Regions from separate parts of the Homo sapiens genome. Here all the other regions are linked to region 1. The links come from fine-mapping of genetic effects on gene expression. A gene starts in region 1. Each other region holds a variant in brackets. All regions are shown on one strand. Distances are from middle to middle. Region 1 holds the start of NEU3 (neuraminidase 3). Region 2 overlaps SPCS2 (signal peptidase complex subunit 2). Region 3 holds the start of RNF169 (ring finger protein 169).

Region 1 (10,189 bases):
TGCACATAGAGGTGGTCAAAAATGCCAAATACCATGGGGCAGATCTACAATAGCATGCAGGAGAGCAGCGAAAAAAAAGGAGCCCTGAGCCCTGGGGGTGCTTGTCAGAGCCAACAGGTATTTGAAGGAAGAGGCAACACTGTTCTGGGGCAAGGAGTCAAAGTGGGATTACTTCCTAGTAACAACTGTCTCCTGCAGGCTAGCCTCTTCCACCTCCTCCTTCCACCACCTCTCACACTTCTGGCTGTGGAAATAACATCATTTCTTGGCTGTGATCTCCAACATACCTATCTTAAACTGCTTGGTTTGGGTGCCCATAGGGGAGAAAAAGTACCTGAATTCAACTGGTAGGGTCTGTTAGCTTACAAGTAGGATAAAATTCACAGATGTGAAAGTTGTGGTAATGAAAATTGGATCCTGACCAACATGGTTTTCTAGAAGAGAAAGGACAAAGGCCTTTCACGGGCTGGTTTAGGGGATAATTGCATGGGAAAGGAAAATTAAAATGACCTGTGGATGGAGCCTCTAAACATTTAATGTACTGCTGTTTTATGGCTTTAGCATCAAAGTGTGTTGTTAATACCAATATACATTTAATTGAACTAGGAAAGTTTATAAGTCTCCCATTCAGGGACTACTGCAGTATAGAGAGATGTAGTCTAAAAGAAACAACATACAACCGCAAGAGGAAAAGAAATAAAAGCACAGGTTTAGTTGAAAACTTAGTTACTCCTGTAGTACTCAGGCCATTTTCCATTATAACCAGCTATGTGGACTTTGCAGTCACCAAGGTGAAATATCCTGAGTACTCCAAGAGTGACCTTTAAAAAGATAGGCACCTCTTAGGCTGCTACTGAGCTCTTGAGGAAACAACAGCGGCCAGAGGAGCTTCCTGAAAGCGTAACTGATTCATTTATGCATACTGCAGGCAGTTATCACTATCCTGAGAGTCATCCTATTGGAAATGTTGATAAGGAATTTGTTCTTGACTTTAGCTGCAGTCATCAGTGACACCACCTCAGCTCTGGATGGCACTTAAGTCAGCCTCAATTCATTGGCCAGGGTGGTTATGGGTGATAGAATTGCTCTTCCTCTTTGTGGGCCAAATTGGAGTCAGTGCAATCACTAATACATCCCACTGTGACTGGATTAATGTCTCAGACCGAGTACAGGGTCAATACAGAAACTTGAGAATGCCACTTGGCTTTCTAAGGTAGATCCTGATGGTTTATGATTGTTGGTTTTTTTTTCCTACCTTGTTGGATACAGGCCCTTGGATATGGCTGAAGTCAGTACTGATTGGTCTTATCCTGTTACATAGAGTTCTGTTGATAGTACCTTTAATTAAATGTAATAAAATACTTTGAATGGACCTGGTTCCAGTTTCTGTCAGTTTAATTAGAGTGACAGGTGGAGTGGCATACTTATGGGAGAATTCATCAAAAGCCAAGATGGCATAGAAATGAAAGGTGCATATCGTTGGGAGACAATTCTTCATGGGTCTCTAGCATTTCTGCATATTTTGCAAAGAGAGGCACTGACTATCTTTGTTCCAGACTATTTGTCCAGGAATGTTTGTATAGTAAACAACCTTAGAAGGTATCAGAGCAAAGGGCGCACATGCTCACTGCCCATTATTGAAGATTCAGGTTCCCTAACCTCAAAGTTCCTCTCCTTTAAGGCACTTCATTACATGTGCAGGTATCATCTGGCTCTCTGCGTCATCATATGGGAATTGGGGCTCAGAACTGGAACAAATGCTGGTACTCTGGCTACTGCTATTGCTGTAAGTAACAAACTATCCTTTTTACAGGTAGTAACAGGCTATCTTGTTAGCTTGCAGGTAAGATAAAAATCTCAGACCCTTCACAATTCTTGACAGCCCCACTCCTACTTCTGCCTGTCCCATATCTTGGAAGCTCCCTAACTTCTGTAACAGGAAGTTCCCCCGATATTCCTGTGCCATCTTACTTGATCGCATTACTTAATACCCTTCTGCATCCCTCTTCCTTCAAACTTTTATATAATTCTGCTCTGCTAATACGGGTGCCAGGCCTGATCCCCTCGCTTTAGTTGCTCACAGTCTGCTGAGAGTGTCAGACACTTAGACAATCTGAACACAGTAGAAGGAGGTGCAAAGTGCTATGGGGGCTTGAAAAGGAGTATTTGTTCTAGTATGGAGGTCTGGGAGGTCCTCATACAGGAAGTGAAAACTGAACCATGAGTGAGGAGTTGGGCCATTTTACAGATGAGGAACCTGAGGCACAGAAGTTAAATAAGTTGCCGAGATCACTCAGCTAGGAAGTGGGAAGAGAGGATTGGAGCCAGGATTCTCTACCTCTAAATATAGAAATTGCTCTTTAACTTCACTTTCTCAGGCATAAGATGAGACCATCTGAGTTTACCTCAAAGAATTGAGAAAGATTTGGTATTAGCTTTGGGTCTATAAAATTTGAGATCCACAGAGTTGGTGATTGTGAACTTGGAGAAGTCTGATAAAGAACCCCAGGACATGACCCGGTTTTTATAAAGGAAATATTTCAGACAAATAAGGCTTAAAGAATAATAAGATGAATATTTGTGAACCTACTGCCATTAAAAATATATATATTACCAATACAGTTGAAGTCCTCAGGGTATCCTTAATCATATCTTACTTCCTGCACTTTCAGAAGTTACTACTACCTGGAATGTGGTGTTTATTATTCGTAAGCATTTTCTTCATACATATGTGTCCATTATATATATGGATATATACAGATATATAGAGACATATATGGTTATTTTTTAATTTTATTTTTACCTCCTTGGGAGCTCTTATACAATATATATGGTTATTGTTTTACCTGTTTTTAAACTTTATATGTGGTTTTTGATTGAGAGTCTCCCAAACAACCCCTGTGTTCAGGTATTTGCTAGAAGGACCCACGCGACTCAGCATATATGACTAAGATTTATTCTTCGATAAAATAAGGACACATCTGGATCATAAGGGAAAAGGACACTGGCAGAGTCTGGAGGAATCCATTTGCAGGCTTCCTTATGCTCTTCCTCCCATGAGGGATTGCAAAGAGCCCACTTTGCCCCAACAACAAAAATGCAGCAACACGTGTGTAATGTTTCTGTCCAGGGAGCCCATTAGAGAGTACCCACAGTTTATTGAGGTTTGGTCATGTGGGCACCATCTGCCTAGCACATAATAAAGACTCCTAGAAAGCAAGCAGGTATCCACCATAAATCATACTGCAATCAAACAGTCTACATAGTCAACTACCCTTTTCAGTTAACTGGTGACTGGGAACACTTTGAGAGCCAAGTTTCCAGACACCTGTCAAAAAACACCAACCTTGCAAGCAGGCCTTCCTAAGGATAACCTGTTAGGCCTGCTATGGTAAATCTGCACAAGTACCATTCTCTCTGTATTGTGCAACTTGCTTTTTTGTTCAATATTTTGTTTGTGAAGATAATTTAGATTGATACCTGTAGCTACAATTTATTCTATTTCACTGCTGTATACTGTTAAACATGACAGTTTATTTACCCTATTAATGGACATTTAGGTCTTTTATAATTTTTCACTATTAAACATTTGCTGCTATGAGCATTCTTGTATGGACACATCTAATACAGGTAGTGGGATTCCTTGGTGGGAGAGGATATACATTTTTACTTTTCTAGGTATTGCTAAATTTTCCTCTAAAGCGACTGTACCAATTTACATTCCTTCTATTAATGAAGGAAATACAAGATTGGAATAATTGGGATAGTTGTGTTATCTTTGTGAATAGATTTTAAAATACTGATTTAGATTTTTAAATAGTTGTAAGACTTCACATTTTCCATATCTTAGTTTGGTAACTTTTTCTAAAACTGTATTAACTTTATCTAGATTTTCAAACTTAAGGAATAAAGTTTGTTTAATATTTATTTCTCATCTCTGTTGTATCCCTGCATATAGTCTCCTTTTCATTAATATCATTTATAACTTTTAAAAATGAGTCTTGCCAGAGGGTTTGTCCGGTTTATTAGATATGTCAAGACTAATATTTGCTTTTGTCAGTCCCCTCTATTGTACTTTGCTTCTTGTTTCATTTATTCTGTTCTTATTTTCATCATTTCCTTTTCTACCTTTTTGGGATTTATTCTGTTCTTCCTTTTCTACATTCTTAAGTTAGATCCTTAACTCATTACTGTTTTGTTGTTCTTATCTCCTGGTATAGGGTCTTTATTTGAGTTCTCCCAGAGGCAAGTTCTGAGACCAGGACCTGAGGGCAATAGTATATGTGAGAGATGCAGGGAGTGCCATAATGAGGTGGGAAAGTAGGAAGGGAAGAAAAGGTGAGCAATAAGGGTGTAGCTTTTAGTAGCTATTGATAATTGCTGTCTAGATTCATTAAATTCATTTTGTCATTAAAGGACAAAATGATGAAATTCTATCATTCATTTGGCATTGGTCAGTTAATTATTTTATGAAGGAGAACTTTTCCCCATCAACTATTTAGTTACCCAGAAATAGGGTTTGTACAGGAAAGGCAGAATAAAAAGCTGCTTTCCTTAGCAAACTCTGAGGTGACCAAAGTGACATTTTTCTCCATATGTCGATATGAACTTTCTTTGCAGTCCTTGTTCTTTTTGATGTTCTAATTTTTCCATATTTGGCCAGTGGAATCACCTTCAAATTGATTCTTACCTTCTTTTGACATGACCTGAAATAGTCTTTTATGGCTTTCTTGCTTTCTGTTAAGATGTTCTAGGCTAATCTTATAAATTTTCTTCCCTGCACCTAAAATCAGCCATTTTTTTCATGGAACCCTGGTTCCTTTGGGGACAAAATAGTATTTTAAGACCCATTATTGCCAGGCGCGGTGGCTCACGCCTGTAATCCCAGCACTTTGGTAGGCCGAGGCGGGCGGATCACGAGGTCAGGAGATCGAGATCATCCTGGCTAACATGGTGAAACCCCGTCTCTATAAAAAATACAAAAAATTAGCCGGGCGTGGTGGTGGGCGCCTGTAGTCCCAGCTACTCGGGAGGCTGAGGCAGGAGAATGGCGTGAACCCGGGAGGCGGAGCTTGCAGTGAGCCAAGATGACGCCACTGCACTCCAGCCTGGGCGGCAGAGACACACTCCATCTCAAAAAATAAAAATAAAAATAAAAAAGACCCATTATTTGGGCTTATTACGATGAGTTGGTCTCTGGTTCTAGGCCTTTTTTTTTTTCTTTTTTTTTTTTTTTTTTTTAGAAAAATACAGCAGGTTGTATTGAGGTTGGCACCTATGTTCTTTCAAAGAACCCTCATCATTTTGTGAGTTCTTTCCTTGTGGCACCACGATGTTCCAGGCTCATCTTGTATGTTCCCTGCCTCAGCACAGGATTTTTTTTAATGAGAAAAATATCACGAATTCAAATTTACAGAAGCTTTACATTTTTATGTCCTCTAAGTTAGCAGTCTGTCTTTCCTTTTATTGGCGTTTGTAAAATTTCTTCTTTTTAAAATTGTTATATTTTAGAGACAGGGTCTCGCTCTGTCACCCAGGCTGGAGTGCAGTGGTGCAATCACAGCTCACCACAGCCTCCAACTCCTGGGCTCAAGGCATCCTCCCACGTAGGCCTTCCAAAGCGCTGAGATTGTAGGCATAAGCCACCAGGCCCAGCCTATTACCTTTACGTTGTACTTAGTCCCAGATAAAAAATGACCTTAGATCAGTCCTTTCCTCTTTGGCTGGGGAGAGGGGGGCTTAAATTCCGGTACTGTGAAACAGAAGAATGGACTCAGTGCTATGTGACAAATCTATGTATGTAAATGTGTGTATATACACACACATAAATTATATATATGAATATATTTTCATTTTCATATTTTGCAAGGAGAGTAGCCAATGCTCTGGACCTCTGGTCCTTTTTGTAGGGTACCCTCTGAGGCCGGGAACCTTTGCTCAACTCTCAGGCTGTCCAGGGAAGCTTTAGGCGGTGATACCGAGCTACAGACCAATATAAGAGCTCGGGGCTGTGGCACTGAAGAGAGGAGGCGGCCGTTGGGAACTGAGGTGGGCCCAGGGCTTGAGCTGAGTTGGCGAGGGTGGAGGTGGTGCCGGTCCCACGCCGTGGTGGGGACCGAGCTGCGGGCTGGAGGGAGGGGCAGCGCCGAGGGGGCGGGACGGGGAGGGCTCGCGGAGTAGGCCAACGGTTGGCCCCAACCGCCACTGACTACAGCCTGCGCCCGCCTCTTTTCGTTGCCGTTACCTGTTTCCGGCAGTCGACACGCTCTTCGCTTCTCGGGGCTTGTCTCCGTGTCCTCCGTCTCAGTTGTTTCTCCCTCTCTATCCTCCTCTGTCTCAGTCTCCCCAGCCTTGGGGCCGGTGCCTCTTCCGGGCTTCGGCGAATGAGACCTGCGGACCTGCCCCCGCGCCCCATGGAAGAATCCCCGGCGTCCAGCTCTGCCCCGACAGAGACGGAGGAGCCGGGGTCCAGTGCAGGTGAGCGGGGTTGGGAGACAGGAGAGCTCCCCGAGGAGGACTCAACTGTGGGGACAGGTTGAGCAAGACCATCTGCGTTTGGGAAATCCAGCCTTGGATTATTGAGACAGAGCCACCTAGTCGGCTAGGATCTGACCTGGCCAGAGAATTCTTGGCTAGTCCTATTTTTATTCGTTCTCACAGAAGCCGAACTTAAACCTCAGAATTATCACTCCAGAGATGAAAGGGAACTGAGACTGGAAAAGCCCTGCTTACCAAAGGTCTCTGGGCGGCAGAAAGAGCCCTGAGCTTCAGTTTCAACTTAGGAGACCTGGGTCTTGGTCCAGATTTTACTGTGGAGTGGCGTTCAGTAAGCTTTGTCCCCATCCCGGGCCCGAGTTTTCCCATCTATACCATGAGAGGGTTTAGACTACAGATCTTCAAAGGTCTGGCACGTGGTAGGTGCTCCTTAAATATTACTTGTTAGGAGTGAATAAATGAGATAGGAAGGCCTCCTGGGATTCACTGGAGGCTCATTGGGTTAGTTGGAGGCTGTGGAATTACATTATTATAGTCTGAGAAGTAGGCGGTATTATCTCCATTTTATAAGTGAGGAAACTGAAGCTCAGAAGTAAAGTGACTTGCTAGTAAGTGTCAAAGATAAGTCAGACTTCAGAGTCCATGCTAGGCTATACTCTCTCCCAGTAAGAAAGCGGGAAGGACTTGATGGGAAAGTGATTATATCGAGCAGCAAGTAATCATTTGAATTCTCTGCTTAAATGAACCCCAGAGCAGGCCCATATCTGATTATTTTCTATCCCGTTTCCAGCACCTGATTTGTGTGAAACGTTTTGGGTGGCAATGCCAGAATCACCATCTATATTACTTCTGTCATCAACACGATCAGCATAATTACAAAAATTAATGGCTCTAATTGTTATAGTGATAATAAAGCATAAATGAAATTGTGAGGACATCAAAATTTATAATTAAAGACACCTATTAAAACAGCAGTTTAAAATTTATAAAACACTTTTGAGTGGTTCTTCATATTGATCTGCTTAGGTAGGTATTATTATCCATAGTTTACAAGCAAGGAATCCAAGACCTAGAGGTTGAGTAACCATCAAAACGTCATGCAGCAAGAAATGGAGCTGAGACTTGAATCCAGCCCATGTGACAAGTTGTGCTTCTCCTTTGGTGATTATTTCCCTATTTCCTCTCCATTTCCTTTTTTTTTTGAGATGGAGTCTTGCTGTGTCACCCAAGCTGGAGTGCAGTGGTGCAGTCTCGGCTCACTGCAACCTCCGTCTCCTGGTTTCAAGTGATTCTCCTGCCTCAGCCTCCCGAATAGCTGGGATTACAGGTGGATGCCACCATGCCTGGCCAATTTTTTTTGTATTTTTAGTAGAGATGGGGTGTCACCATGTTGGCCAGGGTGGTCTCGAACTCCTGACCTCAAGTGATCTGCCCACCTCAGCCTCCCAGAGTGGTGGGAATATAGGCATGAGCCACCGCACCCAGCCTCTTCCTTTCCTGTTCTGAGCCCTAACCCGCTCCATGCCTATCCTGTGCTCCATTCTTCTTATCACCTGGAGAATTCCTGTTTAGATTTAACTAATAGTCACATGTTGACTGATGATAGTAGTGTTGGTTTAACTTGTAATTAAGGTGTTAAGAGTTTAAAGTATGTTCTCTTTCAGCAATAAAGGGGGATTTAAATGTTTTTAAGAAAGGGAGTTGTAATTGTTATTATTGTCATTGTTATCCACAGGATTCAAGGAATAAAACTAGAATATACAGTAATTGGTAGTTTAAAAATAATAACTGTCATATATTGCACTCATACTATGTCATAGGCCTTGTAATAGCCACTGTAGTTAAGCATTTTATTTCTATCACCTACTCTGCTGAATTGTATAGGGGAGGATCCTGAAGCATAGAGAAGTTGAATAACATGCCCAAGGTCACATAGTCCTGGCCTGGTCCAAATCCTATGTTCTTAACCATTACACCAGCCTGGCTCAGAGACAGATTGTTTGCTTAGAACAAAGCCTGACCCTCCCGGGGAGGAGAGCCTGAATTGAGGGGAGAGAAGTATGCTCTAGTATTGAGTGAGAAGATGGTCTCCCCTTGCTTATCTTTTGATTCTGCTGTTGAGAGCCTGGGATTGAAATGAAGGGAGGCTTTTCTTCTGGACTCAGCAAGGCCACTCTCCCAGTTCCCCTCATGATACTGAGCAATAGTTCTTTTCCCTTCTTCAAGTTAGGAACAAGTGACTAAATATTCATATGCTATTGATAAAAGTTTGTCTTGGTTGACACTAGGAGGCTGTAGCCAAAAGCAGTGCAACTTTGCCGTATGGTTCACTGTCCTGAAAGCTTCCTGGAAGATTGGTCTAAAATCATCATGCCATTCCTCTGTCAAAAATTCTTGAGTGGTCTCCCATCTGTGGAATAAACACCTTAATAAGTTATCTAAGCCTCCCAGGATCTGGACTGTGCTGACCCCTTCAGTCCCACCTCTGCCCCCATCCCTTGCACTCCACCTTACTGTAGTCACACTAAACTACTGAGAGGCCCCAAAACTCACTGTTTTCTGTTGCCTATAGGCTTTTCACATCCTTGTCCTCTGCGCTTCTCCTTTTAACCCTCAGTTGGCTAATCCACTGTTCATTCTTTAAGATCTGGCTCACTGATTCATTCAATCATTCAACAAAAATTTGTTGAGTGCCTATTACTTAATAGGCATAGTTCTAGGTGTCAAGGCGGAGCAATAAGAAAACAGACATACCCTTGCTGTTTCTGGAGCTTCCATTTTGTGGTATGTATTAAACAAATGTAACATAGGAGGCATCAAAGTGTGATAAGTGGTGTGGAGAATAGAACAAGGAAAGAAGATAGGCTGGGGCAAAGGAGTTGACAGAGAAACCTTCCTGATTGGATGATGTTTGAGCAGAGCTGAAGAAGGTGAGGGAGCGTTATGTGGCTATCTGAAACGAGTGTTCCAGGCAGAGCCTGTGACTATATGAGGCAGGAGTTCTTTTGGCTCAATCATTCTCTCCAAAAATCCTTCTCTGGTGCCTTGATCTGGATAGATGCCACTTTTGTGTTTTTCTACTTGCTGTTGTGTTTACCTCTAAAGTAGCACTTATTACATCATGTTATAATTGTCCATGTATATGTCTGTTTCCCTCACTTGGATTGGGTTTCTTGAGAGCAGGAACCTCTGATCCTTCTCTGTCTTCTCAGCATCTATTTTAGGGCCTGACACAGAGGAGGAACCTAGAAATATTTATTGAATCAATTGTTCTTACAGCCTGATAATATTTACAAATGATTTGTAAAATTGGGTTTGGATGACAGTTGGTTTGAGGAAAAAGTAATTCTAAGGCTGCTTTTTGTCTGTCTGGCTTGATTCCCCTTTTGGACCTCTGAGAAGTGGAACACCTGGTTTTCTTTAAGAAGAATACTTGGAGACTCCATTGTGAGCATTATGGCAGGGTAGCCAACCTGTAAAATGGTGGGTAAAATATAACAAAGCCGGCCGGGCACGGTGGCTCATGCCTGTAATACCAGCACTTTGGGAGGCCAAGGTGGGTGGATCACCTGAGGTCAGGAGTTGGAGACCAGCCTGGCCAACATGGTGAAACCCGTCTCTGCTAAAAATACAAAAAATTAGCTGGGCGTGCTGGCGGGCGCTTGCAATCCCAGCTACTTGGGAGGCTGAAGCA
Region 2 (10,189 bases), 27 kb before region 1:
TATAGTATGACTGCATTTGTATATCCATAGAGACAGAAAGTAGATTGTTGGCTGCCCGGGGATAGGGGACAGGAATAAGATGTGACTGCTAATGGGTATGGAGTTTCTTTTTGAGGGTATGCATATATTCTAGAATTAGATAGTGGTGATGGTTGCATAACCTTGTGAGTATACTAAAAACCACTGAATTGGCATTATTTTTAAATAGTGAATTTTATAGTGTGTGAACTATATCGCAATTTTAGAAACTTATTTTTGTCTTTCCTGGAGTAACCCTTAAAGTTTCAAATTATTATTTCTTTAAACTATATGTCATGTAACACAGTGGTATCACAGACACTGATTACTTTAATACTATTACTTTAATTACTAATTAAAATATATATATATATATATATATATATATATATATATCTGCCTGCCTAGGTACCTTTTTCAGCTGTTGCTAGCACCATTTCTCTGCTCTGATCTCCATCTTATCAAATTTCAATAGTAGTTTTTTATATTACTTAGCCTTTCAGTAGCATTTGACTTATTGATCACTTCTTTTTTCTTGAAATACTTTCTTTACTTGGCTTCTAGGACACCACTTGCCCCCAGCTTTCCTCCTACGTCAACTAGTCTTTGTTGTCTTCATTGTTCTTTGGTCTTCTTCCTGACCTGTGTAAATATTGCCAGTCCCTGAGCTTATGAGCTTATTACCCCTGGCCCTCTCCTCTGTCTACCCTCATCCCAAGGTGATACCCAATGTCATGACTTAAATAACATGTAGAAGTTGCTGACTTCTACATTTATATTCTCAACCTGGACCTTTCCTATAAGTCCCAGACTTTTCTGTCCAACCGCCTACTTGTCATCTCCACTTAAATGTCTAAAACATGTATCAGGCATCAATAGCCAGAGCCAATCTCTTGATTTCCGCTTACCCCTCAAAGTGCTTCTCTCCCAGTCTTCTTCATTTCAGGTAGATACCTCCATTCATCTAATTTATTCAAACAAAAACCTGAGAGTTACCCTTGATTCTTCTCTTTGCTTTGTACTCCACAGCCATCTCATTGTCGTATTTTCCTGGCTGTACATCCAGAATCTGACCACTCCTACCTAGAGAGCTGTAGTAGCCCTTTCAACTGGTCTTCCAGCTTCCGTGCTTGGCTCCGTTACATTTTGTTCTCCACACAGCAGCCAGACTGATGTTTTAAAACATAGATCACTCACTCTCTTGCTGAATCTCTCCAGTAACTTCCCATCTCAGTTAGCTAAACTCCAAATCCCTAATTGTGGCCTATTTTATAGCCCCTGCATGTTCTTGATCCTGCTTGTTTCTGTCATCCTCATCTGTCAGTTTCTGCTTGAGTCATTATACTCTGGAAACCCTGGCTTTTCTGCTGTTCCTCAAACACGTTAAGCTTGGGGGATTTTGGTGTACTGTTTTCACTGGGACACTCCAGATTTTCTCATGGGTTACTCCTTTATTCAACTCTGCTCAGATGTTAACTATTTTCCCTCACTATTTTTTAGTCTTTTTAAAAACTCTATTGCATTTTTCTGTATAATCTTTTTTAGAGCCTGGAATTATATGCGTATTTGTTTACTTTTTATCTTCCATACAAGAAGAAGCTCTTTGAGTGCAGAATTTGTCTTGTTTATGACTATATCCCTAGTGGCTAGAACAGTGCTTGGCACATAGCAAGCAGCCATTCAATATTAATTTAAAGAAAATAAAGAGTGTAATTGCCATAAAGGTTGTGTTTAAAAATATTATTTTTTTCTTTTAAAAGAATGTCCAACACTGGAATGAATTGCTATTGAGAGGCTTGGCAGTTTCCTTAAAAAGAAAAAGAAACCCAGAAAAGTCATATAACAGTTAATATTTTTCCAGGCAGTAGGAGATGGATTTCAGATGAAACGGCTGTATGGTCCTCTCCCTGAATTTGCACTCAGCTGCATTTTTCAGAACTGATTGCATGTAATTCTTAAATGGAGCACGTGATCTGCCACCTTTCTAGAATAAGGACTCATCGCACATCTGTATCAATGTAGTACATTCCTAGCCAGTCTTCGTGCCTTAATTCAGGTCTTCCTTGGCAGCATCCCTCTCTCTTCCAACCCTCCCCAGTCAGCTTTGCTGCAGATTGATATCCCTGAGGAAATAGGTAACATTTTATCCAAAATCTTTTTTGCAGATCCTTGAACTTGTAGTGTGCCCTTGCCCCTCTATGTCTACTTCTTACCATTTAGCACTTAGCATAGTTTATAATTCATTGTAAGTATAGGATTTTCCTTAACTAAATTGTAAAGACCATTTTTTTTGTATATCTGATTTCTTGTCTACCCATTGCAAAGGTAAGAAATTCATACTGGATGATTATGCCAACAATTCAGTCAGACTTTAGAAGATGTTAGTTGCTAGTAGTGAAAGGATTGTTGACTACATTTCAGTTTGCTGGTAGAAAAAAATACTTCGTTGTTGGAGCATTACTGATTAATATGCTGAATCAAGTTGTTTTAACTTTAAGCTCTTTTCAGCCTTAGATCTCACACTTACTGGGTTCAGTGGTGGGATGTTTAAGTCATGGATCCAGTGATCTGGCCCTCAAAGAGCTTCAGTCATGTAGGCTTCTCTATTCATGGGCTGGGTTGATGTAGAAGCAGCCCCGTCACTGCTAAATGCAGTTTGTGGTGGAGTAGAGAAGGCAGTGTAAAACCTAAGAATCAGTTTCTCTGGGGTTGTCACTAATGTGTGTGCTCATAATTTAATTAACACATGGTAATTTCCTAACTTCTAACTCCAGTGATGAATGCAGTCAGTAATAAGCACTGTTAAGCTAGTAATTTTCTTTGCAGTGTATCTTGGCCATTTTTATAAAAAATAGATTGAAATTGAAGATTCAGTGTGTTGCTAAGAGCATAATCTCTTTGAGATACCATGTTTTTGCTGAATTGGGATCTAAATTAGATGACAGTGCACATTCTTAAGATAGACATCATTTTCTTCCCAAACTGAACATTTTCCTTTCTTGCTAAATATGTGTGTGTGGGGGGGATATAGGCACTATATATTTCCAACTGAAATTGTAATCTCAGCTTCTGAGTTTGCCATCAGTTTTTATTATCTCCTTATTTTAGTTTAGAACTCCACATATACAAATGGGTATTTATCCTTTTTCCTCCTGTATTCTTCTTCTTGGAAAATGACATGATGGCTCCAACAAGTCATCCAAGCCCTAATTCTAGTAGGTGGTCATCTCTGTCTCTTCTCTTTCATGTTCCTTATAACTAGTCTGTTACTAAGTCCTGCCAATTCTACCTCAGAATACTCCCTTTCAGTCCCCCTACTGCTGCTCTGTTGAGCATTGAGGCTCTGCACTTACATCAGGCCCCATCTGCATCTCTATGTCCAGTGTTACTCCCCTCCAGATCATCTGCCAGGTTGCCACTAAAATGACTTAAAAAAAAAACGTAAATTTGATTGTTATTCCCATGCTTAAAATACTCTCCATTGCCTGCTTCAGAATAAAGTTCAAGTTCTTTAGCCTAATAACTAGGAAATGGTTTCTCTCGGATGCCTCATCTCCTACTACTTTCCCCCTTTGCAGCTTCTGTCTACTTTCTAAACTGGGATAAAGGAGAGAAAAAGTTTATTTTTCTTAAAGCCATGCTCAGTTCTGTCTAAATCAGAACAGGGTCACCATTGACACCACTCTCACCCTTGGTAATTCTTCATCTCTCCAGTGTGAATTGAGGAATCCTTTGAGTCTTATTATCAAGCCAGGGAACTTTATGAAGCAATCCACTCAGGTCTTTTATATCACTGCATAACTTCTGTTTTCACTGTGATTAAAATAAGATAATTGAAGGTGTTCATGTGTCATACTCAAAACAATTTTGTTTTGCTGGACATATCCTAATGACCAAGGATTTTGTCCTTTTGTTTTTTGAGATGGATTCTCACTCTATTGTCCAGGCTGGAGTGCAGTGGCACAATCA[C/T]GGCTCACTGCAGCCTATACCTCCTGAGCTCAAGCCATCTTCCTGCCTCTGTCTCCCAAGTAGCTGGGACTTTAGGTGGGCACCACCACACCTGGCTAATTTTTTAAATTACATTTTTTTGTAGATACGGAGGAGTCTTGCTATGTTGCCCAGGCTGATCTCAGACTCCTGAACTCAAGCGATCCTTCCACCTTGGCCTCCCAAAGTGCTGAAGTTATAAACATGTTGCCACTGTGCCTGGCTTATTTTGTCTCTTTTTTTGATCCCACCCTATCCCTTTGAGTGTGGTGAGATGCATGGGAACAGAAGGCTGTATTCCCTCAAATGAGTTAATTTGGAAAATGCCTTCCTGTACTGACTACATATCCTTCAGACCTGAGTTGTGTTTAATATCCTTCCTAAGCACTTATGGAGTTCCTGATGCCATACCTTCAGTGAAGTGTCTTTGTAGAATTTTTTATTATTCAAATGTGCAGTGGAGAAACGTAACTGAAATGATTCTTCATAATGTTCTATTAAAGCTATCAAATGCCTGTTTTCTTTGAACTGGTTAGCCAGCCAGCTCTGGCATCAGGTGTGTTAGTCTGACAAAAGTTGTCTTTATCTTGGCCGGGTGTGGTGGCACTTTGGGAGGCTGAGGTACGTGGATCACTTGAGGCCAGGAGTTCGAGACTAGCCTGGCCAACATGGTGAAACCCCATCTCTATTAAAAAATACAAAAATTAGCTGACTGTGATGACACTTGTCTGTAATCCCAGCTACTCGGGAGGCTGAGGCATGAGAATTGCTTGAACCCAGGAGGCGGAGGTTACAGTGAGCTGAGATCGCGCCACTGCGCTCAGCCTGGGTGACAGAGTAAGACTCTGTCTCAAAAAAAAGTTGTCTTTATCTCTTCAGTGGGTGGTGTAGGGGAGTAATTTCTTTAAGATAGTACTTTTTGAGCTCTGTTTTCAGCCAAATTGCAGTTGGTTTTACATTGGGGGGGGAGGTTCAACATTTTTGATACCCTGTGAGTTTTGTGGTCCTATTCAAGATTAACATCTTTTTTTTTTTTTTAGGTTTTTAAAATGTTATTACTAGAGCTTGTTAGGAATCAAGATACAATGTATAGCTGTCACTTCAGGGATCTCTTTGTTTCCTGTTCTTTGTGTTTTTGATGGCTAATAATTCCTTTCCTTGCACTTCATGGGAAAGCAGTGTAGAATAATGAGAGAGCATGGGTTTTGAGTCCTGGCTTTACCACTTTCTGCCTTTCACCTTTGGCAGGTTTTTTAAACCCTTAGTGTTATCTGTAAAAGGAGGATTTTAACTGTTCTTACCTTGTAGAGTTATTGTGGAAATTAAGTGAGATAGTGTATATAAAATACTTAGCACATCCGTAGCACATGTTAGGCATTCAGGAAATGGTAGCTATGATTATACCTTCTGTCTGCCCTCCATCCCTTAAAGAAATTCTGTGAATAAGAACCAAGTGAGATCATTTTGACCATGTTTACATTTGCTAAATTTAAACTGGAGAGTAACATTTTAGAGATCTTTTTCTTCCCTTTTTTTCTTTATAAGGATTTAGACATTAAAAAAAAAAAAAAGCTATTGAGAGTATATTGTGTTCCAGGCTCTGAGAATACAAAAGTGTATAGTCCCTGTGACCCAGTGAGGGAGACAATACATACAGTCAGGTAACCATGATGCAGTGTATTATATAGTTTTATATCATTAATAGCAACAGCAATAGCTAATTTTTATGAAGTACTTGCTAGGTACCAGGCACTGTGCACTGTGCTATGTTTTATAATTACACTATTTACTTCTCATACCAACCTGTGAAATAGATACTTTCACCATCTTAATTTTACAATTTAGCAAACTAATAAGGCTTTAGAGAGGTTAAATTATTTGCCCAGTGCCTTCCAGTATTAAGTGGAAAAGTGAGGATTAAAATAAAGTAGCCTGACTCCATTCTCCCTTGGATAATAAGGATTCACCTTATTGGGTAAGGAAAAAAAGCATTTGCCTACATACATTTGTATTTAGTCTAAATCCAGTCAGCTTGTTTTTTGTTGTTGTTGTTGTTTGTTTGTTTGTTTGTTTGTTTTTTGAGATGGAGTCTTCCTCTGTTCACCCAGGCTAGAGTGCAATGGCACCATCTCGGCTCACTGCAACCTCTGCCTCCTGGATTCAAGTGATCTCTTGCCTCAGCCTCCCAAGTAGCTGGGATTACTTAGCCTGGCTAAGTTTTGTACTTTTAGTAGAGATGGGGTTTCACAATGTTGGCCAGGCTGGTCTCGGACTCCTAACCTCAAATGATCCATCTGCCTCAGCCTCCCAAAGTGCTGGGATTATAGGTGTGAGCCACTGCACCTGACCAGAACCAATCAGCTTGTGATTTGAAGTACAGTACACCTTTAAGAATAAGGCCACAATCTGCTTTGGGATTGAGTTCAGGGATTAAGGCAAATAAAAATAAGTTTATATCACTGAAGAAGAGACAGTTTTATAATGAGCCATGTATTTGTAATTTAGCCCTAAAGAATTTTGTTGGCCTGTCATTTACTATTTGTATGGCACTTAACATCTTTGAACTCTAGTTTTCTAATCTGAAGGACATTGGTTTCTGGATTGAGGGTCTGCTTAGTGCTGCAATAAAAAGATGAGTGGCAATAGCAGTTTTACAGTGGGTGAAAATTGACCTGTGTAAGGGATATCATCTTGAAATTTTAGATACTGGCAACATAAAGAACTTTTTCTAGATTTCCAGAAGGAAAGGTGTTCAACATAAATCACATCATTTATACAAACAGTTGAGGCACAGTGAGCCATTCTTATCACTGAGGGAATGTATTTATATCAGTGTAGGGATTTGTTTTATCAGCCAGCTTGTCAGATACCAGCCAAGGGCCAACCTTGCAAACAAGCCTTGCTAAAGATGGCAGTCTTGGACCCAGGTTCACTTATTTCTGCACACTGCCCTTCTTTTTAATTTATCCTGTGAGGTCCCACATAAAAGAAACTAATTTTTGCTTTCTCTTTTTATTATTACAAAAGGAAAGCAATTTGCAATTAGTGTTGAGGAAGACAAAATTGAGGCAAAAAAAAAAAAAAGATAGCTTTTAAAATACCCGAATTAGTAGTAGAGAGAACATGAGGAGCAGCATACATTTTAGTTGATGAGCAGTTTTTGAGCATGATGAGAAGTAATAATCAGAAAAAGAAGCACCTAATAGCAACTCCCCTTCTTCCAGATGGTTCTCCATACTGTAGTAGAGACATTACTTGCTTCGAAATGGGCTGTGTTGCCGTAAAGTCAAATTATAACCTTTCTTGTGATTTCATGTAATTCACTGGAAATGTTTCTTTTCCACTTACTGAAGATTGCTTCTAGGTACCAGGCAGTGAAGTTAGAGCTGAGGCTATTTCAATACATTGTAATGGCTGCTTCTGCATTTTATTCTCCCAAATTGGTTAAGACATTATCCTCTGACTTTTAAAGGCAAGTTTCTTTTCTGTGATGCAATGCAGGCAGTGAAGTGTGGCTAGGTGTCTGAGAATATGATTTTCCTGTTTTTGAATGACCCATAATTTTTAAATGACTTTATTCTGACTTTATTTCACAAATAATTCAAATGCTATGGTGGATTTGGCTCTACAAGTTGGTTCTTTTGCATGTCTTCAAAGAGGGATTTACTTGACAGTGTAAATGAGCTATCTAGCTAGAAAACCTGCTAATTTCTTTTTGGTTCAGTTTGTATCTTTAAAATTAGATGTCGTGTTTGATTTGTAGGCTGGCAGTCTATGGCAGTCAATAGTGCAGTATGCTGCCATGAGTAATTTTCTCAAAGAAAAATTTTTGCTTTTACAGGGCACCAAGGGGGAAAAAAAACTTGATTGACTTTTAATCACTTTAAGTATGGCTATTTTTAGCTCATGTTATTTCTTCTAACAAACTTCACAGAACAGGTTTTCTCTTTTGTGTAATAATATATAGAATCACAGTTAAAAAAAAAACAAGGTTGATGAATTGTATTTCTGTAGTTGTTTAAAATCTTTACAATTATTTTTATCCCATCTCTTATTTTATTTTTTATTGTTTGTTTGTTTGTTTGTTTGTTTATTTATTTATTTATTTATTTTCAGAGACAAGCTCTCACTATATTGCCCAGGCTGGACTCGAGCTCCTGGGCTCAAGCTGTTCTGCCACCTCAGCCTCCCAAGTATCTGGGATGGCAGGTACTCACCACTGCCATCTCTTTATTTCTTATAGGCATTATCTTTGTACTTGTGCTCAATCCGAAAGATAAATATGACATTCTCTGTCTTTCAGTAAAATAATCCATTCTAAATCCAGATGAACGTTGGATTGCTTGCTGGTTTGTAATTTTTATGGAATACAATATTTGTTCACTTGATCTAAAAAATTAAGAGTTGGCCATTAATGGTCTACAAAAAACAGGTTTGTCAGATTATTTGTAGCACCCTGTTCCTCTTAAGCTATATTTACTTAAATACTTGCATTTGAGAAAATTTTTTACTATGTAATATATTCACATGGTTAAAAAATTTTAAAGGCACACATAGAGTAATCTTACTCCTCCCCGTATTTCTCTACCCTGATAAGATATCTGGATGTACCGTAGTTTGTTTAACCAATCCCCTTGTAAATGAGCACTCGAGTTACCTCCAGCTTTTCACTATTACAGACAATGCTGCAGTGAGTAGCCTTGTATTTCATTTCACATGTATTCAGTTATAGAAACATTCCTGGAAGTGGGAAGTTGAATTCAGGGTGCTAAGTTGGCATTCGTAGGTGCTGTAACATTTTGAACTTCTACATGAGCAGTGAGAGAATTATTTGCTTCTGAATAGCAGTGTTTGGGAAACTTTCTAAACCTCTATAGATAAGGGAAATAGAAGTAGAGTTTGTCCACTCAACTCGTGTTGGGACTGAGTCTGGGACTTGGTTTGTAATTTAAAATGTAGTGTTGTTTCCAACAGGCTATCCTGGAATTGCTATCTTAAAGTTAAGACATGCTGGTAAAATAATAAAAGTTGTTAGCTGACAAAGTGATATTAAAGGAGATCCTCCCCATTTTGTTAGTATCTGTAAATTCATGTATCTGTATTTTCTGAGTTTTGTGGTCACAGAAAGAAAGAATGAACAAATAGAGTAATTTTCTGTACTCACATTTCGGTAAAATGAAGGTGGGATATACAAGTTTACACTTACAGTCTGTGCAGCCCATATACGTTTTCTGGTTCTGGGGTTGTTTTTATATTCTCTGCATGGAGACTGGCAACATCAGCATCACATGAGTACCACCTGACTCTAGTGACCTAGTCTCTTTCAACCTGATTTTTAATTGTTTGGTCTTTTTTGTTTGTTTTTAACTGCTTCTTGCAGGGCTACCCCATAGGAGTGTGCCCAGAATAGCCTGTTTTGTCTTTTAGTTCTGCAACATCAGAAGACAAAGAGTAAATATTATATGTGCATGAGGGATGCTCTTAAAAAATGGTTCATTTTACTTTCAGTAAGAGGCCAGGTTTCTTGATGCACAACTTTTTTGTTTGTTTTACAGTGGAAGATAGATGATAAGCCTGTAAAAATTGACAAGTGGGATGGATCAGCTGTGAAAAACTCTTTGGATGATTCTGCCAAAAAGGTACTTTCTTGAGGAGGGGTTGGTTAGTATCTATACAGCTGATGGCCATCTCTCCTGGGAAATCTTTTCCTTTTGTAACTTGGAGTGACCTTAGTTTTCAGTGTTAGAAATTAAGTCAGAAAGCAGTTTCTAAAATTTCTCACAGAAAAAGTCAGAGGAAGTGTGTTGAAATATCACCAACATGGCACATGTATACATATGTAACAAACCTGCACGTTGTGCACATGTACCCTAAAACTTAAAGTATAATAATAATAAAATTAAAAAAAAAAGAAATATAGATGTTGGCTATCTCAAGAAAGCTGGTAATTTTTTGTTTTTGAGATTAATTAGCCTAGAGCACAGAAGGGTGAGAGAAGATAGGACATTCATTCATGATAAATCATCTCTCCATTTGTAAAAGTAAAACATTTTAGCTGTGGGAAAAGTTGAGGAGTTTAAAGTTTTTTATATGAGGGATTGATGAACTTTTTCTCTTGGTTCTTTATAGAAGGCTTGAGTTTTACTTGTTTGGTGTGGTAAAATCCCAACTGGAGGGAACTACT
Region 3 (9,392 bases), 240 kb before region 1:
GTGTGGTCTGAGGGGCTTAGCCTTCTCCTTTTTAGATGTGTAAGGTCTCAGGATGGACTCAGCAGCACTTAAGCTGGAAGGAGAGGTCTTGGGCTTGCAGGAAGAAACAGCCTTGTCTCCACCTGGAACTAGGCTGAATGGCCTTGCTCATATCTGAGTCTTTCAGTCCAGCAAGGAGAAGCTGGAGCCATCAGCTAGAGGGAAGTTTTGTAGTGATGTGGATGAGGAGTGAGGAAGGGGTAGTGGTGGGGTGGAACCATGCAGAGCTATCTGGGTAGAGGTGCTATGAGAAGGATGGTAGGGAATTCTGACAGCAATGCAATCCTCAGAAAGCAGCTGGAGGGGAAGCATTGGTACCTGGGGCTGCACTGCCATTTGTTCCAGTTGGCATCGTGCATTAAAGGGAGTCTGTGAATCCTTCTTCCCATGGTGGTCTGTGGTGCAGGTGGGGCCTTAGAGAAAAGCTATTTGGGCTTGTTCTACTCTAGGCTGTTGGCTTAAGCTTCTTGTATCATTTTATAATCTACCAAGCACCCTTGACAACCATTTTTAGGCGACACTTCAAAAACAACAAGCTAATGTCTCAGTTAGAGTACTTTGATGTAAACAACAGAGACTGTGAGTCATTTAAGAAAAAATGAAATTTACTGAAAGGATACAAAGAGTTGACAGGAAAACTGCAGCATCGGATATGGAAAATGGGCTGTAACCTAGGCAGGCTCGGCAACGGGAACCACAGCCAAGTCTGTGTCTCAGGTACAGCCTGGCATGGCCACCCTCATCATGGCAGGGCCACCCCCCTCAAACCCCACCAGGGCCCCACTGCTGTTGCATACCTACTGTCTCTGTTGCTATGAATAATTCTAAAATTGTCTCTATGTTTTCATGTCACTTGCTGAAGATGCCAAGCTCAGAGAATAGTGGCCAGGTGGCTGAGCCTGGGTCATGTGTCACGTCCTAACTGTTAGGGGGCAGGGAGAAGAATATCCCTTCAGGTTCAGCTTCCCTAGCCTCATCAATACTATATAGAATGGGGAATTCCCTAAATAGAAAGGAGGTTTGGGCCAGGCACGGTAGCTCATGCCTGTAATCCCAGCACTTTGAGAGGCCGAGGCAGGTAGATCACTTGGGCTTAAGAGTTCAAGACCAGCCTGAGCAACATGGTGAAACTCTGTCTCTATAAAAAATATAAAAGTTACCTGGGTGTGGTGTTATGTGCCTGTAGTCCCAGCTACTCAGGAGGCTGCGGTGAGAGGATTGCTTGAGCCTGGGAGGCAGAGGTTGCAGTGAGCCGTGATTGCTTACTGCCCTCCAGCCTGGGCAAAAGAATGAGACCCTGTCTCAAAAAAAAAAAAAAAAAAAAAAAAAAGAGAGAAAGAAAGGAAGGAAGGAAGGAAGGAGGGAAGGAAGGAAAGAGGTTTGGATGCATTTTTGTCAGTTTTCAATTTTCATCACAATCCCAGGCTGCTAGGCTTGAAACTTTAGAATCATCCTCATTGTTATTAGCTTCCCACATAGTGAGTGGCTCTCCAGATTTCTTAGGTGTGCCTTGCTCTCTGTCACCACTATTGCTTTTAGTAAGATTACTCAGCAATGGCATAGAGGAGAGAAGAGGCTGGAAATTGGAAGTTGGACTTCTACAATGTTAGTGCTGGAATGGTCCTTTGAATTTATCTATTGTAGTGGTCTTACCTAGGAGTATTCATTAGAATTCTTATGGCACTAAAAAAAAAAATACACAGCCTGGTATCCCCCACCTGGGTTTCTGGGTTCACTAGATCTGAGGTGGGACCTTGATATATACAGGTGTTTCTGAGGTGTGTCCCAGGTTGAGAACTGATGACTTTCTTTTTTTTTTTTTTTTTTTTTTTTGTGAGCCAAAGATTTATTTCTTCATTTCTTGCATTTGAAATACTCTTCGATGACATCCTTGGCCTGAGACTCCTTGCCATAGTCCTTAACTACTACACAACTGTAACCAACCACTTTATGGGGTTTCCCCTCTCTGTCAATTTTACAGAGGCCTACCCATTCTCCTAGTTTCTTGTTGTCATCAACCTTAATTAGGTTGATTTGGTGTTCAGCACAAAGGGCCTCCACCAACTTGACATACATAGGCTCATCACAGTTGGATGCAAGCACACAAAGATGGGCTTGGCGCTTGTCTAAGACTTTGGCAGCTTCGCGAATTCCACGTGCTAGGCCATCGTGGATGAGGGCGGTCTTCAGCACCTCTTGTAAAGCAGTATTAACCTCCATTACACCTCCAGCAGCAATGCCTTCCTCGGCCATGGCAGTGGGTTACGGGTGAACCTGAATCTTGAACGCACCCAAGCCTCCGCCTCCGCGCGACTCGGCGGCAGGAGGGAAAGGGCGAGAACTGATGACTTTCAATACTCTTTTTTTTTTTCGAGATGGAGTCTTGCTCTGTCGCCCAGGCTGGAGAGCAGTGGTGCCATCTCGGCTTACTGCAACCTCCGCCTCCCGGGTTCACGCCATTCTCCTGCCTCAGCCTCCCGAGTAGCTAGGACTACAGGCGCCCGCCACCACGCCCGGCTAATTTTTTGTATTTTTAGTAGAGACGGGGTTTCACCGTGTTAGCCAGGATGGTCTTGGTCTCCTGACCTCGTGATCTGCCTGCCTCGGCCTCCCAGAGTGCTGGGATTACAGGCGTGAGCCACAGCACCAAGCCTTCAATACTCTTGTTTTAAAAATGAGGAGATTGAGGCCCAGAAGGAAGTTAGCTGTTTGAAATCACACAGTGAGTTAGAAGGGGCCAAGACCAACCCCAGATCTCCTGGCTTCTGGTCCAGTGCTACTCAGACCTCTTGCTTTTTCCCTCTGCTAAAGGAAATTTTCTATATTTATTTGTATCCAAGAAAGCATGCTATGTTTCTGTGGCTCAGCTCCTCCAACAGTAAACAGATTAAAAGATCCAAACCATCGAGAGTGAACAGCCTGCACAAATGGTCCCATTTCTAATGATGGTTGGCTTGATCTCTGGATCACAGATCTCCTTTGTCAGAATCCGGGAAAAATGTCCTCAAGAACCTTAAGTTGGGATGGAAGTGGGCAGGACCCATGGATAAAGGATAGCCTAGCCAAGGCCATACTTCTGTGTCTGGCAGGATTCTGTCTGGGTCTCTATGCAAACAGGTCTTTGTTTTAATCACCCATTGGCCTTTCTTCAACTCTTGACTGTCCTTTAGCCATCTGGTTCTTATCTTGGGAATCCATCACCTTTTTTTCCCCCTGCTCTCTGAGTTAATCAATCACTCGGCACTGGATTGGTTTACCGCTAGCTCTGGGCAATCTCATCAAAACCCAGGGCTTCTCATGCCTTCTATTATATTATGTTGATTTTTTTTTTTGAGACAATGTCTCATTCTGTTGTCCAGGTTGGAATGCAGTGGTGCCATCACGGCTCACTGCAGCCTTAACCTCATGGACTCCAGTGATCTTCCTGCCTCAGCCTCCTGAGTACAGGTGAGTGCCACCATGCCCAGCTAATTTCTGTATTTTTTGTAGAGATGGGGTTTCACCATGTTGCCCAGGCTGGTCTTTAACTCCTGAGCTCAAGCGATCTGCCTGCCTCATCCTCCCAAAGTGCAGGCGTGAGCCACCGCCCCCAGCCTATGTTGCTTTTTTATTTTTCTCTCTTTACAAAACTCGTGTTATCCTATAAAGGTTTCCACTAAGAAATGCCATTTATTTAATGCTTCCCATTCTTTGCCCTGCTCCAAATCTATCCCAGGGCAAAGAAAGCAAAGAATGGGAGAACTACTGTAGCAGAACCACCTTTCCATTAGAGAGGGGTCATTCTTTCTCCTGGAACCTCTGCATCTAGAAAGGGCACTAGCATCAAAGTCCAAGCACCTCTCCCTAGCTCAAGCAGGAGTGACACGGTCAGAGCTGGCCTATAGGAAGCAACTCGAAGAGTGTGGAGGATGGATTAGAAAAGAGGTTGGGAGAGGGGAGACAATCAATCTATAGCAGCTACTGCAGTAATCTAGATGAGAGATGATTAGACCTGAATTGGGCAGTGGGAATGGGATGAAGAGGTGGGGAAATAGTCATTTTGATAGTGGAATTGACAGGACTAAATAACTGATGGTTTGTGGGAGATAAGGAAGAAGTTCAAGATGACTAGGTTTGGAGCTTGAGTACCTGGGAGGATGGGACCTTTCATAGAATGAAGGAAATAAGAAGAGCAGTTTTGAAAGGAGGATGGGAGACAGTGACATTAGTTTTGTACATGAGGAATGTAGGGATCTAAGAGGATGTTTCCATCAGGCAGTTGAATATGGAGGGCTGGACTCAGGAGGCCTGGGCTGCAGACAGCAATCTGGGAGCTCCTGAGGGAAGAAAATGTGGACCAGTGCAGCACGCAGAGTGAGAAGGGGACTGAGGCCTAAGCCTAGAGGAACACCCACATGGAAGCACCAAACACGGGAGACTGAGAAGGAGCCAAGAGCCTGGGAAAAAAACCAGGAAAGTGTGGTTTTACCAGCCAAGGGGGGCAGTTTCAGGAAGGGACATGGGGAGAGAGGATGAGGAGGTAGGATTGACAAGAGGCTGCTCCTTTTGGCAGTTAGTTACCACGGTGGGCCTGGTTTCAGTCACAAAGCTACCCCCATCCTTAGGAGAGAGCTCAGGCCCTCATATCAAATGAACACTAAGGCAGGTTTCTGAGTAACTCACATATTCCCCACTCACTTTCTCCTCAGTTATCAAGGCATTACAGGATAAGTACGTGTATCAAAGTTTAACATCGTTCAGAATTGCCAGTAAAGCCCCTCAGTTCCCACCTCTTTCAGTTCAGTAAGAGGAAACTGCAAGGACTTTTCGAGAGTGCGGCTGATGACCGCATAATAAAGAATAACTAATAAATATTAATGAAGTATCCCCTCTGGCCAATCAGGTCTGAGGAGAACCCTCTTTGGGCTCACAGAAGCCTCGCCCCTCATGAATATGTAGATAGCACTGCCCACCGCGCGTACTGCCCCGCCCTCCACTCTTCTCCCTCGCAACCGACTCTCCCTTCAAACGGGAAACAAGATGGCGGCTGCAGGTCCGAGTACTCGGGCCTCTTCCGCGGCGGCAGCAGCCGCTCTGAGTCGGCGGGGCCGGCGGGGCCGCTGTGACGAGACGGCGGCAGCTAAGACTGGGGCCCCAGGCCCGGCTTCTGGACCTTCGCTGTTGGTGTTGTCGCCGCCGTTGCTGCAGCCGCCGCTGCCGCCGCGGCCGGAGGAATCGGGCTGCGCCGGGTGCCTGGAGCCCCCCGGAGAAGCAGCGGCCCTGCCGTGCGGCCACTCGCTTTGCCGAGGCTGCGCCCAACGCGCCGCCGACGCGGCGGGCCCGGGTTGCCCTCGCTGCCGCGCCCGCGGCCCAGGCTGGGCCCGCCGTCGGGCCCGCGACGACGGCCAGGCCGACTCAGAGGTGCTGGGCGAGTGCGCCCGCCGCAGCCAACCCGAGCGCTGCCGCCCGCGCCGGGACGGGGGCGCGGCTGCCGCGGGGCCCAGGCCAGAGCAGGAGCCGCGTGCCGCGCCTGCGGAGCCAGGTGGAGCTTCCCCACTTCCCCTTAGGGTCTGGAGCGAGGCCGAGCGCGCCCCGGCCCGGCCTGGTGAGGGGGTGGAGAGTCCCGGGCCCTACTCGGGCGGGTGTGGAGAGTTCTCGTGGGATTAGAACCCGGGCTCTACCCAGGTGCAGTGTGTTTGTGAATTTTGAACTTCAGAGTGAAGGACAGGCACGTTGCATGCGGAGGGGCGGTGAGGGCACCCTGTGCCTTACGTAAGTCCGAAGTTTGGAGGGAAACAGAATTGTTGGAACAAGTTAGGGGCAGGTTGGAATTGGTGTGTGGGAGTGGGAGGGGCCTTGGATCAGAGAAGTGCTTGGTTTAATGTTGGATGAAGAGTTTGGGGGTCATATTGCTTGGAGAGATGTGGCTCCTGGCCTTGAAAGGGTCAGTGAAGGGTGTGGAGAATCCGGAGTTTAGGGAACAGGTTGAATTTGAGGATGTGAAGGGAGCTTTTCAGACTCGAGAGCAGAGGGGGTTGGGAGCACACTTGTGCAGTTGTTTTCATACATTTTGGAAAATGTATGCTTAGCACAGAACTTGGCACATAGTGAGGAAGCAGTAAGTGACTGTCGTTTATATTTGTAATACTAGTACTACTAAGTCCAGTAGTGCCTGACAGAAAAGCTGGCTTGGGTTTAAAAGTTTTGGAAACAAAGGTTGGGTGGCAGGGGCTGCTTCTATCTCCTTGGCAGTATGGGTTTCCTACTGGCTTGCTGGCAAT[TAA/T]AAGTCTGTTGTAGGACTCTTGCCTTGAACTTCTTTCCCCTAACACCAGCAGCCTGCTATTCCTCGGTTCTGAGCTTTGAAATGCAAAGTGCCCTGTATAAAATAAGACTGTTATAACTTAGGATTCTTTTGGGGACACACCCAGTCAACATAACATCTGCAGCTCTGTTTGATAAAAAATGCTTACCTAGAATGAGATTTTCAAGAAACATAAATCACGAAAGGCCAGATATTTGTACCTTCTGTTTTGGGAATTCTGCCATGTGTTTTTTTGGGTAAGGAAAGAGAGGCATTGCTTGTGTATACAAGTGCAGCTTCTAGAAACCACAGGTTCTAGAATGCACTCTGTTTTGATTCAAGCCGCCAGAGACACCTGTCACTGTCCTAGGATATTGGGCTATTTTATTCCTGGGGTTGAGGGGGACCTGCATCTTACTTTCTATGTTCCTTGTCACTCCCCTCACCTTTTTTTTTTTTTTTTTTTTTTTTTTTGAGATGGAGTCTCGCACTGTCGCCCGGGCTGGAGTGTAATGGTGCGATCTCCACTCACTGCAGCCTCTGTGCACCACCCCTTCAGGTTCAAGCGATTCTCCTGCCGCAGCCTCCCGAGTAGCTGGGATTACAGGCGCCCACCACCACGCCCGGCTTTTTTGTATTTTTAGTACAGATGAGGTTTCACTGTGTTGGCCAGGCTGGTCTTGAACTCCTGACCTTGTGATCCGCCCGCCTTGGCCTCCCAAGGTTTTTTTTTTTTTTTTTTTTTTTTTTGAGACTGAGTCTCACTCTGTCTCCCAGGCTGGAGTGCAGTGGCCAATCTCTCAGCTGACTGCAACCTCTGCCTCCCAGGTTCAAGCGATTCTCCTGCCTCCGCCCAGTAGCTGGGACCACAGGCACGCGCCACCACACCCTGCTAATTTTTGTAATTTTAGTAGAGACGGGGTTTCGCCATGTTGGCCAGACTGGTTTCGAACCCCTGGCGTCAAGTGATCCGCCCACCTCTGCCTCCTGAAGTGTTGGGATTACAGGCGTGAGCCACTGTGCTCAGCCCTCGTTATTCCTTTTAAGCTTCACAACATCCCTATGAGATAAGTACTTTTATTTCCATTTTATAGATGAAACTGAGGTCCAGAGAGGTTAACTAACTTGCCTAAGGATGAAAACCCGATTCTATCCTATTCCTGCTCAAATCAGGGATGAAACGTCTTTAATTTTGTGGATGTGGTGTGATGGTTTCATATGCTACTTAATTTGCTTTATAGTCTGAGATTATGGTCACGATATAAGACAGTATTTCTCTGGTCTCCCTATTAGTACTACTGATTATATGGCCACATAGGATAGAAATTTTCATTTTGATTTCTAAGCTTGGAGACTGTTGTGAAATACCAGTTCTGAATTTGAACCATGAGAGGAAGTTTGGCTTGATGATTTGTGCAAACTTTTTCCCTTGAAGATGTTTTTGTCATAAAATTTATCAGTGATTAAGGGAAATTATCTAAAATGAGATTTCAAATTAGAATCTATTGAGTCACTTAGTATTCATTAATTACTTTATATGTTTATATGAGGACCAAAATGAAAAATGGTTTTCTTAAATGTTCTTGTTGTTGGATTGTTTTGTATATACAGTTATGTGCTTATTCAGTTGAAAAATTTTAGAATACAAAAATATTGCCAAAAGGCTTAGGAAGTATCTCTTAGCTTCAGTGGGTTGTCTGATCCTCTTGTAGTTATATACAGTATTTTTAAATTAAAATTTTTAATAGGCAGTGCATTCACAGGATTCAAACAAAAATGTAACAAAGTATACAATGAAAAGATTCCCTTTGGCCAGGCGCGGTGGCTCACCCCTGTAATCCCAGCACTTTGGGAGGCCGAGGTGGGCGGATCACAAGGTCAAGAGATGGAGACCAGTCTGGCCAACATGGTGAAACCCCGTCTCTACTAAAAATACAAAAATTAGCTGGGCATGGTGGTGTGTGCCTGTAGTCCCAGCTACTTGGGAGACTGAGACAGGAGAATCTCTTGAACCCAGGAGGCGGAGGTTGCAGTGAGCCAAGATTGCACCGCTGCACTCTAGCCTGTTGACAGAGGGAGACTGTCTTAAAAAAAAAAAAAAAAAAAAAAAAGGGAAAAAAAAGAAGTGATTCTCTCTTACCCCCTTATTTCTCACTCCCGTCAAAGATTCTTGGGCTGGGCATGGTGGCTCATGCCTGTAAATCTGGCACTTTGGGAGGCTAAGGCGGGCGGATCACTTGAGGTCAGGAGTTCAAGACCAGCCTGGCTAACATGGTGAAACCTTGTCTCTACTAAAAATACAAAAATTAGCCAGGTGCGGTGGCACACGCCTGTAGTTCCAGCTACTGGGGAGGCTGAGGCAGGAGACTCGCTTGAACCTGGGAGGCGTAGGCTGCAGTGAGCTGACATCATGCCACTGCACTCCAGCCTGGTGGCAGAGCAAGACTCTGTCTCAAAAAAAAAAAAAAAAGATTCTTGTTTGTTCTTCCACAGTTTATGGATCTATCTACATGAAAATTCAAGTATGCTTATTTTTTGCCATTTTTATACAAAAGGTTGTACATTATACACACTGTTCTGTAACTTGCTTTTTTTTTGGTTTAAGAATACATCATCAAAGTCCACAGCAGTATGTTGTATGGAATTTTACTGAGTGGATATAGCATAATTAACCACCTATTGGTGGACATTTTGATTGTTTCCTGTCTTTTGCTATTATAAATAATTGTTTATAAAATCATTATGTAAATGCATGTGTGCATTTTTATGGAGAAGTCACCAGTAGCTTTCACCAGAATCTGAACCATTGTTTTATTTTATTTATTAATTAATTAATTTATTTTTTGAGACAGAGTCTTGCTCTGTTGCCCAGGCTGGAGTGCAATGGCATGATCTCGGTTCACCGCAACCTCCGCCTCACCGGTTCAAGCGATTCTCCTGTCTCCATCTCCCGAGTAGCTGGGATTACAGGTGTGCGCCACCACGCCCGGCTAATTTTGTATTTTTAGTAGAGACGGGGTTTCTCCATGTTGATCAGGCTGGTCTCAAACTCCTGATCTCAGGTGATCCACCC

Evidence for each region. PIP is the estimated chance that this variant, and not a neighbour inherited with it, causes the effect.
Region 2: its variant is fine-mapped to the expression of NEU3 in whole blood (TOPMed, PIP above 0.99).
Region 3: its variant is fine-mapped to the expression of NEU3 in whole blood (TOPMed, PIP above 0.99).

Annotation. Positions count from the first base shown.
Region 1 is chr11:74,982,678-74,992,866 of GRCh38, forward strand. It overlaps NEU3 (neuraminidase 3), which reads left to right and starts at 6,256. Exons shown (of 3, transcript NM_006656.6): 1 at 6,256-6,477. The coding sequence starts at 6,384. RefSeq lists enhancers at 6,006-6,055, 6,336-6,525.
Region 2 is chr11:74,955,474-74,965,662 of GRCh38, forward strand. SPCS2 (signal peptidase complex subunit 2) reads left to right here. Exons shown (of 5, transcript NM_014752.3): 2 at 9,561-9,644. Among named protein-coding and RNA genes, the nearest start is that of SPCS2, 11 kb to the left of the region's middle. The variant C/T (reference allele first, on the strand shown) is at 3,988.
Region 3 is chr11:74,743,823-74,753,214 of GRCh38, forward strand. It overlaps RNF169 (ring finger protein 169), which reads left to right and starts at 5,027. Exons shown (of 6, transcript NM_001098638.2): 1 at 5,027-5,560. The coding sequence starts at 5,059. It also overlaps the pseudogene RPS12P22. RefSeq lists silencers at 4,858-5,078, 5,252-5,401, 5,432-5,691, 5,702-5,801 and enhancers at 5,052-5,141, 5,291-5,884. The variant TAA/T (reference allele first, on the strand shown) is at 6,300.